Regions from separate parts of the Homo sapiens genome. Here region 1 is linked to region 2. The links come from fine-mapping of genetic effects on gene expression. Tissue or cell type: aorta. Region 2 holds a variant in brackets; the other region holds the start of a gene. All regions are shown on one strand. Distances are between the middles of the regions.

Region 1 (2,590 bases), 430 kb before region 2:
CTACAGGCGTGCATCACCATGCCCAGCTAATTTTTTGTATTTTTGATAGAGACGGGGTCTCGCTATTTTGTCCAGGCTGGTCTCGAACTCCTGGCCTCAAGCGATCTGCTTGCCTTGGCCTCCCAAAGTGCTGGGATTACAGGCGTGAGCCACCGCGCCTGGCCTTTGTTCAGAATTCTTTACACTTTCCACTGTGCTCACAAGGATAAAGTGCCAGGCCGCCAGCTGGAAGGCTCAGCCTTTAGCCAGGACTCGGCCCCAGACTCCTAAAAGTCAAGTCCATTGCTTCACTTTTCTGTACCTCCGTTTCCTCCTCTATAAAAGAGAGAATAACCCCAATATTACCAGGTGGGTGCGCTAATCAGATGAAGTCGCCCTGGACGGAAAGTATCCACAGCAATAAATGATTTTGCTTGAAACTGTCCCATTCTCATCCCTCTAAATGCCTTTTCCTTGGCCCTCCATTCTCCTGCTCGCTCCCTGTGCTCCACCAGGGAAGCCACAGAAGTTCACAACCAGAAGAAAGCCCATTTTACAGATAGGGAAACTGAGGCTTGGAAAGGGCAACAATTTACTGAAGGTCTGACAGCCCCGTTGGAACCCGGGGATTCCCCAACCCGGGGCATTCTCCCCGCCACGCCCCGTCCCGGCTGGGACAGAGTGTCCAGCCTCCTCGCCCTGCCCCGGCCTCCAGAAGCCCCGCCCCAATAGCACAGCCTCGAGGTTCGGAAAGGGCTGTTAACTCTTTGCTCCCCGGAGCACTCCTTGGCCTCGAGGGCGGGGTGAATTTGGAGGGGGTACTGGAGAGTGGGCAGAAAGGGAACGATTTTGCGCTCAGTATGGATTCGCCTTGGTCCCCCGGGATGACACGCTTTGACCCCAAAAGCCCAGGCGCCGCGCCTCACCTGCAGCAGCTGCTCCGTTCGCAAACTCACTTCCTGCTTCCGGCTCCCCCATTCATTGGGGCTCTGCGAACCCCGCCCCCCTTGGCCAACTGCCTGGCCTCGGGGTCCGGATGGGCGTCAGTACCAGCCAATAGACGCGCCAAGACGAGCTTCTCGGCTCGCCCGCTCCCGCCCCCAGGCGCTACGGGGTGGCGCGCGGATTGGCCCTGCGGGCTCGGCCTTTTGTCAGCAGGCCGCACACGCGCCGGACCGGGTACCGCTGTGCCCGGCCTGGCCGCGGCCTAGTCCCGGCAGACGGGACTGACGAGGTCACCAAGCCCAGGCCGAGACGGCGCGGGTGTCAGGGACTTGGGAATCCCCCTCCCCCAGTCCCGATCCCGCTTTCCTTTGGGGTTTCACCTCAGAGGACCCGACAGCACTCTTGCAGGTGGGAACCTACACAATAGGAGTAATGTGGCTCCACCTTCCTCTCGGGACTCGGGACCTGGGGGTGGAGACTTGGAAGTTGCAAAGCTCTCGGTGCCGGGAATCGGGGCTACGGTTGAGTGGGATCGGGCCAGGGCTGAGGTGGTCCCACCCGTGTAGGGGCGCGGAGAAACGCCTCGACTGCTTCACTGTACCACCACCCACCCGCCACGGGCCTGGAAGGAGCCGCTAAACATTCCCGAGCCTCAGTTTCCTTAGCACAAACAGGCTGGTAGTTTCCTGGTGCTTGCCAGATGCCTGATGGATGAGAAAGCCTCCTGCGGCCCCGAAAGGGAGTCCAGAGCAGAGGCGGGCCCGCGGTCCACTTTTACAGGTCTGGACGGACTCACGGGACCACGGTCTGGGTGGGGCATGCGGAAGGGCCTAGGCCAAATGGGGAGTAGTGGTGAGGGCCCAGGGTCAGACTGGGGGGTGGAGTGAGGTTGTCTGGGAGTCTTGGCTTTATGAACCGGAAAACCAGGCTAATAATTGAATCCAATCCAAGGGATATTGTAAGTTGTGATGTGTTGACTGCAGTGCCGCTCCCTATAGTTGCGCAGGGTGAGGGGCGTTTGGGTACTGAAATCCCGCACGGTCTCCTTGCTACGCCCGTGTCTAGGCCAGACAGCCTCTGCTTACCATAGACACCAGTTTCTCATCCACAAAGGTGCCCAAGGCCCTGCTTGACACAACAGTGTTACAAGCTGTTAGCTTTGATGATTACTTGTTATATGGGGGAGTTCAACAAGTTGGTCGGTGTCCTTAGGAAAGTCACCCCTCTTCTTTCCTGTGCCTCCGTTTTCATTGTCTTTAAAATGGGTATAAAGTTGGCTGACAGGTGAAGTTGAAATGTGCACAGGTAAGGGAGGTAGTGCTGCCCACTGCCAGCAGGGGGCAGCTCAGGCAAGGAAAAGACCCCAGTGCTCTCAGGACCCCCCAACCAGCTACGTGATCACATTTTTATGATCACAGATAAGATGAGCATATACTGAGGTCCCTTGCTAGCAGTTTGGCATGGAGGACCTCATTTAATTCTTGCAAAAATCCTGAGGTATGATCACTTTACCCATTGTACAGATAGGGAAACTGAGGCTAAGAGGTTCGCCGACTCCTATAACACCACACAGTTCAGATATCCCTGGCCCCAACATAGAGATACACACACACAGTCACTCACATGGAGCAGTCTATCACTGGAGTCATAACTCCCCAGCCTTGGC
Region 2 (2,752 bases):
ACAACTAAGCTGGCAAAGGCAAGAACAAGCTAAAAAGGGCAAGCCTCCGCCTTGCTGTGCCGAGATAAAGAAAGAATGAAGACCGAGCCGTGATGGGGTATATAAGGTCTCCTGGAGAAGCTCGGCCTATCCTGACGTCCCGCCGCCAACACCTACCTGGCGGGTGTAGCTCTGCAGCCGCTCCACCAGCTCCTCGCGATTACCTGCAGGGCAAAGTACACGATCAATGGGGCAGGCCAGCCCGGCCAGGTCAGGCCCCAGCGGCCTGCCTCCGCCCCTCGCACCCGAGTCTCCCGGGTAACCAGGCTCCGCTTCTCCGCAGGCCCGTAAAGGCCCCTCGACTTCCTGTGTTCCTCACCCTGGATCGGAGCTCCGATCTCTGCCAACTTGGCCTGAAGCTCCTGGGCAGCCCAGGCGCCATAGTGGCCTGGAGGTGGCGGCGGCGGCAGCTGCAATTCTGCTTTGGGAGGCTCGGGATGCTCCGTCGCCATCTTAGCCGCAGGAAGGCGCGCGACCAACCCGGAAGCTGGGGCCAGCCTCAGGGCCCACTTGCCGGAACTTCCGGTGGCGCCGTATGCCACGTCCTCTCTGGTTGGGAGGCGACGCGCACTCAGGCACACCCGCTGCCGTGCGCTGGGCGACGGGATTCGCCGCAGACGCACCTTTCTCTAGTGGCCCCTCGGCGGTCTGGTCGCGAGGCCTCCTGGGAGTTGTAGTGCGCAGGTCTCGGTCTCTGCGGGCCCTGCGCGCCGCTACGGCCCCGAAGGCCGGCGGCGGGCCGGAGGGCGGGGCTGCGAGGAGGGCTGGCACTTCCCCGAGGGAGTGTTTTCTGCGCCTCACCTGCGGGAGCGAAGGCTCTCAAGCTTTCCGGCCCGGCCCTCCGGTCAGATCCTCGAACGCTTACGCTCCCAGGGAGTCCCGAGAGACTCATTTCCCCGGCGGCCCCGCGTTGCGGGCGCCAAGCGGGAGGCTGGAGCCGATGCCTGGGATAAAACAGTGTCTGATTGTCTGCCCGCCCACCCCCGGCCCAGGCCCGGATGAATGGGCTGAAAGGGGATCCAAGCCGGGAGAGCAGCAGGCCTGCCCGGGCTGAGCTCCAGCTGCCGACCTGGGGGAAGGGCGACTCTAAAGCCCCCTTTTCCACCTTCCAGGCCGGCTCAAATGTCGTCTTCTCCACTAAGCCTCCTCCCGCTTTCCTTTCCTTTCTTAGAGCTCCCATAATACGTTCGAATCTCCACCGTTTGTTAAGTCTTTCTTGCCCTTTCTTCCTACCTCTATCCCAAAAATGTGAGCAGGGACTTGATCATTTTCAGTCTCGCATCGCCTGGCGTT[C/T]AAGAGGCGCCCAATAAATGATTACTGGAAAAAAAGGAACAATGTTTCTGGTGAAAGCATTTGTGTCTTTTTTAGTCTCAAAAATAAACTCAGGCCCTTTTCCCTCAGCCGCACCTGCACTGGGGGCCCCACCTTGCCTCCCACTCCCCACCCCAACTCCCCTTGGCCTTTGGAGACAGAGGCAGAGACTGGCAGGGATTCTTGCCTGCCTAGCATCCACCTCTCCCTGTCCCACACCATCAATTCAGTTTCTCTCCCCACCTCTGCCACTAGCTCTGCCCTCTCACCAACAGCTAGCCTGTGTGTGTTTTTTATGTGTGTTGAGAAAGGGAGTGGGGAGACTCAAGTGAAATGGTCTCATTTTCCCCCTACACATCCCCTTCAGATCTTTTCTCCAGCTCCATTTTGCCAACTGCCCCCAGTGGAGAAGAAGCTGGGAACAGGGAAAAAAAAAGAATGGGGCACCAGGTCGGGGGAAGGTGAGGTTTGGGAGAGACAGGGAAAAGGACTGGGTTGAGAAAGGTTGGCTCACATCCTAGCACTGGGTGGGAAGTCCTCTTCCTCCTACCCAAACCTTGACCTTTCCCCTTTCCATCAATATCACTATGGGAGGCTCCTGCAGCCACACTCCCAGAGGAGAAGCCAAACCCGGAAAGGACAGTAACGAAGACAGAAAAACAGCGCCCTTCCCTCCAGCTTGTCAGCCCACTCAGGCAGAACCTTTCTAGCCCAAAGGAAGGCTCTTCTGCTCCCTGTAACTGGAGAGCCCAGGGCAGGTCATCTGAGGCTGAGGGCCCCAAGGCATGTGTAGGTGCTAGGGAAGGGGGCGGGGTCTCTGAGGCAGGATAAACTAAAGGCTGATGGAGTCTCATTTTATTTATTTATTTTTTATTTATTTATTTATTTTTTTTTTTTTTTGAGACAGAGTCTCAGTTGCCCAGGCTGGAGTGCAGTGGCTCTATCTGCGCTCACTGCAAGCTCCGCCTCCTGGGTTCACGCCATTCTCCTGCCTCAGCCTCCCGAGTAGCTGCGACTACAGGCGCCCGCCACCACGCCCAGCTAATTTATTTGTATTTTTTTTAGTAGAGACGGGGTTTCACCGCGTTAGCCAGGATGGTCTCGATCTCCTGACCTCGTGATCCGCCCGCCTCAGCCTCCCAAAGTGCTGGGATTACAGGCGTGAGCCACTGCACCCGGCCTGGAGTCTCATTTTATAACAGCCCTGGGAAGGAGGCAAGGTCTCAAGATCCTCCTCCCCCACGATATTGTACACAGCGGAAGATTGATGGGCAGAGAAGGTGACATGCCCAAGAGGCCAAACTGGGGCCACCAGCAGTCCTTCTGACTCTGAGAGTCCCTATTTCCTCCTCCTCAACCATAACAAGGACCCTCACACTATTTCCTATGTGGGCCTAGAAGG

The links. PIP is the estimated chance that this variant, and not a neighbour inherited with it, causes the effect.
Region 1: DPP3-DT starts here. The variant in region 2 is fine-mapped to the expression of DPP3-DT in aorta (GTEx, PIP 0.98).

Annotation. Positions count from the first base shown.
Region 1 is chr11:66,478,781-66,481,370 of GRCh38, reverse strand. DPP3-DT (DPP3 divergent transcript) reads left to right here and starts at 1,122. Exons shown (of 4, transcript NR_120586.1): 1 at 1,122-1,332. DPP3 (dipeptidyl peptidase 3) reads right to left here and starts at 937. Exons shown (of 18, transcript NM_130443.4): 1 at 906-937. RefSeq lists enhancers at 798-967, 1,544-2,111 and a silencer at 1,108-1,157.
Region 2 is chr11:66,050,124-66,052,875 of GRCh38, reverse strand. SF3B2 (splicing factor 3b subunit 2) reads right to left here and starts at 512. Exons shown (of 22, transcript NM_006842.3): 1 at 359-512; 2 at 157-203. The coding sequence starts at 491. RefSeq lists enhancers at 305-474, 1,095-1,144, 963-1,514 and a silencer at 685-894. The variant C/T (reference allele first, on the strand shown) is at 1,333.